Linked DNA regions of Homo sapiens. The protein of the gene in region 1 purifies or fractionates together with the protein of each later gene. This does not show direct contact. Each region holds a gene or a part of one and is shown on either strand. Other genes may lie near its edges. The genes, in order: XPNPEP3, DNAAF1 and CFAP418.

Region 1 (3,655 bases):
TGCTAAGTGAGATAAGCCAGTCACAAAAAGCCAAATGTTGTATGATTCCATTTATATGAAGTAGCTAGAATAGGTAGATTCACAGAGAAAGTAGAGGTTACTGGGGGCTGGAGGAGGGGAGAATGGGAAGTTATTATTTATCTGTACAGTTTCTATTTGGAATGATGGAGAAAGTCGGGAAAAAGTGGGCACAACAATGTGAATGTACTTAATGTCATTGATTTGCATACTTAAAAACGGTTAAAATGATATATTTTATGTTATGCACATTTCACCACAGTAAAAAGATTTTTTTAAATTAAGTCAATGGCCAACACCTTGGAGAGAATAAATGAAATAGGGAGTTTTGGGATAGTTTCTATCAGTTTGCCAGTGAGATTTATGGTTTACACTTGGTCTCTGTGAAAACTCTCGGGGGGCTTTACTGTTACGTAGCAGGAATATGATTATGTGACCAAAAAAACAAAAATCCCTAGCTGAGATTCCATTTTGGAGTCTCTGATTCTGAGGTAGTCTGTTGCATGTGCCATGGACTGAATTGTGTTTCCCGCAGAATTAATGTGTTAAAGCTCTAATCTCTATGTCTTTAGGAGGTAGTTAAGGTTAAATTAGGTAATTAAGGGTGGGGCTCTAATTTGATAGGACCATGGCCTTGTAAAAAGGCCCTCTTTCACTGTCATGTAAGGACACAGCAAGAAAGCCGCCTTCTGTAAGCCGGGAGAGCCCTCACCAGAAATGGACCATGATGGCACCTTGATCTCGGACTTCCAGACTGCAAAATTATGAGACAATACATTTCTCTTGTTTAAGCCATGCAGACTGTGATATTTTGTAATGGCAGCCTGAGCAGAGTATGACAACACTGGTGATTCCTAATCTGTAAGAGAAAGATACATCCTGCCTGGCCCTCACCTAGGGAGGACCAGAGAAGCCTGCACCTGGCTTCTCTAGACTCCTTGCTTTGAGACAGCCATTGGCTGTGATATATATCCTTACTTTCATATTATGGTTATTTTTTACCCTTTTCCTATAATAAACTGCAGATCTGTAAGCATTGTCACTTTGGGTCCTGAGTCTTTCTTAGAACCAAACTGTTTAACTGACACTATTAGTGTAACTATAAGGAAAAGAAACAGTATTAATTTCTGTCGTTCTAAGGAGAAATAATTAAGATTGATGGGTAAAAGAACCATCTTAACAGAAGGCAGATTTACTTTGTCTTGCAAGGTATTAAGCAAGTCTCTAGGTATGTTCACTACACACTGGAGCAGAAGCTAGATGCCATTCTGCGGTGAGGAGACTGCTGCATTGGGTATACGACCTCAAGAGCTTACGATTTTTCCAATCTGGAAAAAACTTTTTCTTTTTTTCTTGTTTTTTTTTTTTTTTTTGAGATGGAGTCTCGCTCTGTCGCCCAGGCTGGAGTGCAGTGGCCCGATCTCGGCTCACTGCAAGCTCTGCCTCCCGGGTTCACACCATTCTCCTGCCTCAGCCTACCGAGTAGCTGGGACTACAGGAGCCCGCCACCATGCCCGGCTAATTTTTTATGTTTTTTTAGTAGAGACGGGGTTTCACCATGTTAGCCAGGATGGTCTCGATCTCCTGACCTCATGATCCACCTGCCTCGGCCTCCCAAAGTGCTTGGATTACAGGCGTGAGCCACCGCGCCCGGCTGGAAAAAACTTTTCAATAGGAATCATACCTGTGATGTCAGCTTCCCAGCAATCTGCATTCGTTCAATTTCTGCAGGAGACTTGATCAGCCGGAGGCGCTGTATCAGCTGCTGAACACCCCGAACCTTGTTCTTGCTCTTGGCTTTGGCCTCAGTCAGGGGCTGCATATAGTCAGAGTGAAGCTGTGCATGTGAGGGCCTCATCCAGTCATACCAAACCATGTTCGTCTCAGCTTAGAATGAGAAGCCGAAAAATAAATTTAAAACAAAACTACCAGCAACAAGAAATATCAACTGTCATAACGACTTGAACAAGAGTCAAAACTATAAAACCTGTAACGTGGAACTCTAAAGTGTTGAGACTTAAGACTCTCTCAGGACTGAAGCAATAAAGGTTTGATTATAAATCATTAGAAAGGTCATTCCCTGGAAATGGCAAGATATTCTAAGACTGAATATACAGCTTTTCTGCCCCTAAACTTCAGTGTTCTTTATAAAGGATGATACGGGACTAAAGCTTTAGTCAAGCTTTGATTTTCTCTCTTTCTCTCTCTCTTTATTTTTGAGATGGAGTCTTGCTCTGTTGCCCAGGCTGGAGTGCAGTGGCACAATCTCAGCTCACTGCAACCTCCGCCTCCCAGGTTCAAACGATTCTTCTGCCTCAGCCTCCCAAGTAGCTGGGACTACAGGTGCCCGCCACCATGCCCAGCTAATTTTTGTATTTTCAGTAGAGATGAGGTTTCACCATATTGGTCAGGCTGGTCTCGAACTCCTGACTTGTGATCCACCCGCCTCAGTCTCCCAAAGTGCTGAGATTACAGGCGTGAATCACCATGCCCGGCCTTCATTATTAAACAATTAGAACAACTGTTCTTCACCACCACTTACTGAGCTAGAGGCACTTGTTGAATAATTGCACACAGAAGGACAGAAAAACATACTCAGATCATGACTTTATGGGTAAAGTGTCCCATCCTTTCACATAATGATCTCAGTACTAGAGGAAAGGGTTCTCCTCCCATTCTGGAGCAATTATTCATTGCTATGGAAAAACTACAGTTGATATTTCCTCACTTCTCCCTTTGCATCTGCTATACATTCTCTTTGTAAACAATCACAGTTCAGCTTTCAACTTTAGAGACCTAAGGAAATGGTCTGTATTTGCCTAAGATATACGATATAAAGGCTCATTATAAAAATGATTTGCACTTAATATCAGATCTACATTTGTTCTTTTTTTCTAACAGTAGGCTACAAACAGTATTCCTAACAATCCAAGTGAGAAGGTCTGAATATTTTATATGACTAAAAAGTACTTTGGGGAAAGTAGAGGGGAAAAAATCCAGAAAACTTTGATTGGATATGCACTGATTCTATGATTCTATGTCCTATGTGATTCTATGTCCTACATATTTTCATTTTTAAAATAAAAATGGTTCTAAATATATACTACATGGGAAACACCTTCCTACTTACGATAGATGGAAATTTAATTGTCGTGTAATTTTTTTTTTTTTTGAGACGTAGTCTTGCTCTGTCACCCAGGCTGGAGTGCAGTGGCGCGATCTCGGCTCACTGCAACCTCCACCTCCCTGGTTCAAGCAATTCCCCTGCCTCAACCTCCCAAGTAGCTGGGATTACAGGCGCATGCCACCACGTCCAGCTAATTTTTTCGTATTTTTAGTAGAGACGGGGTTTCACCATGTTGTCCAGACTGGTCTCGAACTCCTGATCTCAGGCAATCCACCTCCCTTGGCCTCCCGAAGTGCTGGGATTACAGGCGTGAGCCACTGCACCCGGCCAATTGTTGTAATTTTTAAAAAGTAAAACAATCTCTACTACACGTTCAAAGTGTATGAAATCATAGCTCACTTTTTTAAAGGTTTTTAAACCTTTCAATAAATATGATTTTAGCCAGGCACGGTGGCTCACGCCTGTAATCCCAGCACCCTGGGAGGCTGAGGGGGGTGGATCACCTGAGGT
Region 2 (3,655 bases), on another chromosome or scaffold:
GGTGAGAGTTACATTGTATCATCAGTTACATTGTATCTTTATACATTGTATCTTTTCCCCCCTCCGTGGACACCGCCCAGCAGGTAGCTTAGGCTCTCACTGGCCTTCTGGCTCATGGAGGTGTGACGGTTCAGTGTCCCATCCCCTTGAGTGAATGTTTGATCGCAGCCTTGCCTGTCACTCTTCCCTGAAGCTCTTCCCATTTTGTTGACAGTCTCAAATGCTTAGGCCCACAAGAATGGTACCATGGGAATTCACACATTGTCTCACAACCCCCCAAGAACTGTCCTTTGATGGGGCACGAATAGGAGAGGCATTTCTGGGTACCTCTGACCTTATACCTTGGAGAGGTGGTCCCCTGCCCACTTCCTTGTTAAACTTCTTCTAAACTGGTGTTTCTAATGTTCAAACTTCAGAATTTCACATGGCCCAGTAGGAGTTAAAGTGATCGGCCAGGCATGGTGGCTTACGCCTGTAATCCCAGCACTTTGGGAGGCCGAGGTGGCTGGATCACGAGGTCAGGAGATCGAGACCATCCTGGCTAACATGGTGAAAACCCATCTCTACTAAAAATAGAAAAAAATTAGCCAGGTGTGGTGATGGGCACCTGTAGTCCCAGCTACTTGGGAGGCTGAGGCAGGAGAATGGCAGGAACCTGGGAGGTGGAGCTTGCAGTGAGCCGAGATCACGCCACTGCACTCCAACCTGGGCGACAGAGCGAGACTCCATCTCAAAAAAGAAAAAAAGAGTTAAAGTGATCACGGTCAGAATTCACAGTGGGTTTCTAGTTTTCTGGAGCTATGTAAAAAAAAGAAACAAAGGCCAGGTGTGGAGGCTTACACCTGTAATCCCAGCACTTTGGGAGGCCAAGGTGGGTGGATCACATGAAGTCAGGAGTTTGAGACCAGCCTGGCCAACATGGTGAAACCCCATCTCTACTAAAAATACAAAAACATAAAAAATAAAAAAAATAAAATTAGCTGGGCGTGGTGGCAGGTGCCTATAATCCCAGCTACTCGGGAGGCTGAGGCAGGAGAACTGCTTGAACCTGGGAGGCGGAGGTTGCAGTGAGCCAAGATCTCACCACTGCACTCCAGCCTGGGCAACACAGCGAGACTCTGTCTCAAAAAAAAGAAAAAGAAAGGGACATAATTGGGCAATTTATCTCTCACATTTGAGAACTGACCATATAGATAACTACAACACTAATAGCTAATGTTAATTGGTTTCTTATTATATGGGTGACACCATTCTAAGCATGACTTGTATTGATTGATGTAACCCTTCCTACAACTCTAAGCAGTACATACTATTATCATCCCAATTTCCCAGATGAGGAAAATGAGAAACAGAGAGGTTAGGCAACTTGCCCAAAGCCAGACAGCTAGAAAATGGTGGTGGGGGAGTAACAACCTAGGCACCGTGGCTCCAGTTCATGCATCCAACCACACACTATGCTGCCTCCCCAACCACGCACTGGTTGTTATGGACAAAGATACCGAACAAACACCCACAATACAAAACAAAAAAGTCCTACAAGTTTTGGGGAGGTACAAAATATATTACTTTTATACCACATAGAGTTTTCGGACTAGTTTGTACAGAGGTGCATTTGGTTTGGGTCCCATTATTTCCCCCAAGATGAACTGGCTGTGTCTCTTAATAAAAAAGCAGAAAAAAGATGTGGAAATTCTTTAAACACGTCACACCTTGCAAGTTCCCTTTCATTTATTAGATCCAGACACCTGAGGTGGCAACGCTTGCTTTGTGTGTATCTAGAGTTCCTTTTGGTGGGGAACAGGCAGGCGAGTCACCTGAGTGATTTGAGTAACTGTAACTAAGGCTGGGTTGACTGCGTGTTTGCCTTTATCGTGCCTATCAGAACGTTGACAGTGCGTGTACCTCCCTGGTGATGTGCGGCTCACTTGCTCTTTCAGGACCTACCTGACTTGGAAGATGATGATGAAACAGGCAAATCTCTGGAAGACCAGGTTAAGGTCATTAGAAACCATTTTCCCACAGGCAGCTTAATTCCACCTTCGTTCTTGTCGTTTACCGTTTCTCTCCTAAACTTGAAAGTAAAATGTTCCCTGTGCATAAAGCATTGAATTCCCCCATATTCTTTTTCTTTTCTTTTCTTTTCAGGCAGAGTCTGGCTCTGTCACCCAGGCTGCAGTGCAATAGTGTGTTCTTGGCTCACTGCAACCTCCACCTCCTGGGTTCAAGCAATTCTCCTGTCTCAGCCTCCCAAGTAGCTGGGATTACAGGCATGAGCCACCACGCCCAGCTAATTTTTGTATTTTTAGTAGAGATGGGGTTTCTCCATGTTGGCCAGGCTGGTCTCGAACTCCTGACCTCAAGTGATCCACCCGCCTCAGCCTCCCAAAGTGCTGGGATTACAGGCGTGAGCCACCGCACCCAGCCCACATCCCCCATATTTTCACCTTGCTGAAGGAAATGCCATTTGTTCTTGTTCAATTTCTTTAAGATTTTATGATGAACCACTTGAAAATCTATTGCTGGTTTGTAACAGCTGAGTACAGTGCATAGTTAGCTGAAAGTACTTTCTGTCATTAAGATGTATTTCTATGTCCATCCTATGAATGTCTGTCTGAATATAGGGGAAGGAAATGAAAACAGGAGAGGGGAAAGAAAGGGGTGAGTCTGTGAGGCACAATGGGGAATTCTCTCAGAGTGACGTGACCCTACTCCACCCAGAGGCCATTACTGGCATTACCAGGAGCCCACACGTGCCAGACCCGTACCCTGAGGGAGAAGGAGGCATCAGCCATCATCTCTGAGCACGAGCTCAGCAGCAAAGAAAACAGACACAGTTACTGTGGGGGGCCTGCTGTCCAAGGAGCTAAGTCCCAGAGAGTCTGTGAAGGAAACGGGGTTCAGGGGCATGCCAAGCAGAGCCCAGGGCTCAGGGGTGCGCCCTCTCAGGTACCAGGAGGGTGAGGAATAGCCAGTGGCTGGGGGAGCAGAGGGCAGAGAGAAGGGCATAGACATGAGCTGTGCCCAGGGAGTGGCCACCCCCAGGCCTAACTTTCAGAGTCCTGTGTTCCCTTGGGCCTTTCTTGGATGTGGCAACAGAATACTTTGTGACATTGGGTGAAAAAGCAGAACTGGCATGGTGCATTGTAGAGCGATTCTGTTGTGAAAACAGAAACTTTCAGACACCTTTTCTTCTGTAAATAGAATATGTGCTTTCCGAAGATTGAGGTCATCTCGAGCTTGAGTGATGACAGTGACCCTGAACTGGACTACACGTCACTCCCTGTGCTGGAAAACCTCCCCACAGACACTCTGTCAAATATATTTGCAGTCTCTAAAGACACCTCAAAGGCGGCTCGGGTGCCCTTCACAGACATCTTTAAAAAAGAAGCTAAGAGGGACTTGGAAATCCGAAAACAAGACACCAAGTCCCCAAGACCCCTGATCCAGGAGCTCAGCGACGAGGACCCCTCTGGCCAGCTACTGATGCCCCCCACCTGCCAAAGAGATGCTGCACCACTCACTTCCAGTGGAGACAGGGACAGCGACTTCCTTGCAGCCTCTTCTCCGGGTAAGAGCGTGGGGCCGAGAGCACAGTGGAGACAATGTTGGCTCCCCGGCCTGGGATGGGTGGGGCAGGGCAGTCACTCAGCCTTAC
Region 3 (3,655 bases), on another chromosome or scaffold:
CATTCCATTGGCATTTTCATAATGTGGGCAAACAGTTTGGCTTTAAGCAAACCCTACTCTCCTGCTGCTTTTGGTTCTATTTTTGGCAGAGGTCTACTTACCTAACTTACTTTATTAAAATACTTTTATCTAATTATTTCTAAAACACTTATTTTCTGTTAATTTTTTAAGAAAGAATGGCCTAAGTTATATGATTGCATGTTGACCACATTTCTGGAGGGCTAACTGTTGTATAGTCAAGTGTCACCAACAAGGATACATTCTGAGAAATATGTCATTAGTCATAAGTCATTATGACTTCCTCATGTACAAACATCATAGAGTGTACTTACACAAACCTAGATGATATAGCCTACTCCACACCTAGGCTAGGTGGTATACTAGCCTACTACATACTACTAGGCTATAAACCTGTGTAGCATGTAACCGCACTGAATACAGTAGGCAGTGGTAACACAATGGTAAATATTTGTGTATCTAAATATTAAAAAGGTACAGCAAAAATACATTGTAAAAGATTTTTCAAATGGTACAGCTGTATAGGGCACTTAGCATGGACAGAGCTTGCAGGACTGGAAGTTGCTCTGAGTGAGTGAATGAGTGGTGAGTGACTGTGAAAGCCTAGGATATTACACTAGTATAGACTTTATAAACACTGTAGCTTAGGCTACACTAAGTTTACTTTTAAATGTCTTTAATAATATTAACCTTAGCTTACTGAAACTTCATTTATAAATTTTTTTATTTTTTTAACTTTTGATTCTTTTTAATAACAATTTAAAATACATCGTACAGCTATACTAAAATATTTTCTTTCTTTGTATCCTTATTCTATAAGCTTTTTTCTATTGTTTCATTGTTTTTTACTTTTTTTTTTTTTTTTTTTTTGAGACAGAGTCTCGCTCTGTCGCCCAGGCTGGAGTGCAGTGGCGCAGTCTCGGCTCTCTGCAAGCTCCGCCTCCCAGGTTCACGCCATTCTCCTGCCTCAGCCTCCCGAGCAGCTGGGACTACAGGTGCCCGCCACCACGCCCGGCTAATTTTTTGTATTTTTAGTAGAGACGGGGTTTCACTATGTTATCCAGGATGGTCTCCATCTCCTGACCTCATGATCTGTTCTCCTCGGCCTCCCACGGTGCTGGGATTACAGGCGTGAGCCACTGCGCCCAGCTCTGTTTTTCACTTTTTAAACTTTTTTGTTAAAAATGAAGACACAACACTCACATTAGCCTGGGCCTATACAGGGTCTGGGTCATCCATATCACTGTCCTGCACTTCCACATCTTGCGCCACAGGAAGGTCTTTGTTGCGGGGGTACAACACGCATGGGGCTGTCATCTCATAGTAACAGTGTGCCTTCTTCTGAAATACCTCCCGAAGGACCTGCCTGAGGCTGTTTTACAGTTAACTTTTTTTAATAAGTAGAAGGAGTACATTCTCAAATAATGATTCAAAGTATAGCATAGTAAAAGTATGAACCAGTAACATAGTTTATTATCATTATCAAGTATTATGTACTATACATAACTGTATGCACTACTTTTATACAACTGGCAGCTCAGTAGGTTTGTTTACATCAGCGTCACCACAAACACATGAGTAAGCATTGTGCTATATAGGACAGCTATGATGTAACTAGGAATAGGAATTATTTAGCTCCGTTATAATTCTATAGGACCACTGTTGTATATGTGGTCCGTCATTGACCAAAACATCACTGGGGCAAATTAATTATATTGAATAATAGAAGTGGGAGTTAAAAAAAACATTGTTGGAGGGTTGTGGTGGTGCCAGCCTACATCGAAGGACAATGCCCAGAAGGTAGGGCTATAGGACAAAAGTGAAATTAGGAGTCTGGAGAAGCCTTATATGGGAACACCAGGCAGCCAACAGGCTAATATAAATCCACTGGAATGTTACCTACTGTTAGAGCTATAAAGAAGAATTAATAGTAATTGAATCACCATGTGTTGAGGACTCTCTGTACAAAAAAATTAGAGATACAAACTGCCTGTAGAGGTAGTGTTGTTGCTGTCAGTCCTAAATTGCCTGTCTCAACTCAGTTGGGACTTGTCTCCGTCATTTTCAGAGCCATGCCTCCTCTATTCCAGGCATCTCTCAAGTCACCCATGAGCCACAGCAGCAGTTTCCCAGTTATCATCCACTTACATCTTTTCTAATATCACCCACATATAGCATTCAAGATAATATCCCTAAAATACTATTCTGAGTGCCTCTCCTCTATTCAGAAGGGAAGTGAGAGTTGCCATTTGTCTCACATTAACTCTAAACTCACTATTTGCTTTACCAAATTGTTATCCTTGTTGTTCCTCTTCTCTCTTTAGTTCCTTCAGCTCCAATTAAAGCCTGGGTCAGATATTCCACTGCCACTGGGATGCTTGTCATTCTGTACTTTCCACTTATGTTTTTCTGTGTCTGAGTATATTTACATTTATTCCCTATCTGGAACAACACTCCCTTCTAATGCATGTCTCCTGCTGCCTTATCTGTTTAATTCACACACTGCAGATTGATTTTTCTATTTAAATTTTTTCGATTTTTTAAATCCATTGAATGCCCATGTCCTAAACCCTGTGCTAGCTTATCAATAAAAGGCAAAACACTGGCCAGTAAGGAACAAAGAAGCAAATGATTACTCCTGTGGCCTGAAATGGAAGGGCTCTGATGACAGAATGCCTGAGTTCAAAGCCTCACTCTGCCACTTACAAGCTCTGAAGCCTTAAGAAGGGATGTTATCTTCTAAAACCTGTTTCCTCACTCTTAAAAACTAAACATATTTCATGGAGATACTCTGAGGATTAAATGAAATAATACATGAAAACTATGCCTATGGTGCAAAAGACAGCTAGGTACTGCAGGCACACTGGGTTCTAATTAAGGTGTCTTTCTCATCCATTAGTCCTGCTTTCTTGTTACGTTATATCTCAGGGACAAGAATCTTTATTCTACTACTAGTTTTCCATTTTATCTCAGGAAATACATATAATTACAGGTGCCTTCTGTTTTTACAAATGATCTTTTAAAAAAATACATTCTGGTTTACTTCTAAAAAGTAAACATTTCATTAAGATTTTCTTATGTATGAAATATTTTGTACGTACTTTGATTTAGTTGTAGCACAGACAAAATCTATGTTAGATGGAATTTCAGTAAACCAAAGAACAGCCTGTTTTCATAGCTCGAGGCTCCTATCACATACTATTAGTCCAAGTGGGATGCCGAAATCAATTATACCTGATTTCTACCTCCTGCACAGCTGTAAGAAGAGATACCAGTTGCATATATATGCGCAGGTAAATGTTTGTATTCACAGATTTTTTATTAGTTGCCCCTTTCATGAAACAGAATTTGCACCCATAGAAAGACAAACACATGTGTTCATCTGCATATGCAAATTTTATGTGTGAAGTACTTTATACTGTCCAGAGCACTTTTTATATATGCATATTGACTTACCTGCTCCACAAGAGAAAAACCCAAGATGCTGATCAAGAATTTTTACCTCCATTTTATAAATGAAGAGATTGAGGTACTTGTGTTAAATTCATCAAACACATATTAACCACCTGATAGGTCCTAAGGATTAAATGAACAAATTTTGATGAACAAATAAATGGACACTTCCTGTCTTCAATGA

Evidence for each region.
Region 2: the proteins of XPNPEP3 (region 1) and DNAAF1 purify together in Homo sapiens (affinity purification with mass spectrometry; one large-scale study listed by BioGRID and IntAct). This does not show direct contact.
Region 3: the proteins of XPNPEP3 (region 1) and CFAP418 purify together in Homo sapiens (affinity purification with mass spectrometry; one large-scale study listed by BioGRID and IntAct). This does not show direct contact.

The regions. Positions count from the first base shown.
Region 1 is NC_000022.11:40,884,563-40,888,217, reverse strand, and holds part of XPNPEP3 (xaa-Pro aminopeptidase 3), read right to left. Parts: intron 1,906-3,655; coding exon 1,703-1,905; intron 1-1,702. UniProt on the Homo sapiens protein: Catalyzes the removal of a penultimate prolyl residue from the N-termini of peptides, such as Leu-Pro-Ala. Also shows low activity towards peptides with Ala or Ser at the P1 position.
Region 2 is NC_000016.10:84,172,732-84,176,386, forward strand, and holds part of DNAAF1 (dynein axonemal assembly factor 1), read left to right. Parts: intron 1-1,937; coding exon 1,938-1,991; coding exon of another isoform or gene 1,992-1,997; intron 1,998-2,621; coding exon of another isoform or gene 2,622-2,961; exon of another isoform or gene 2,962-3,201; coding exon 3,202-3,568; intron 3,569-3,655. UniProt on the Homo sapiens protein: Cilium-specific protein required for the stability of the ciliary architecture. Plays a role in cytoplasmic preassembly of dynein arms. Involved in regulation of microtubule-based cilia and actin-based brush border microvilli.
Region 3 is NC_000008.11:95,255,615-95,259,269, reverse strand, and holds part of CFAP418 (cilia- and flagella-associated protein 418), read left to right. Parts: intron 1-3,655. UniProt on the Homo sapiens protein: May be involved in photoreceptor outer segment disk morphogenesis.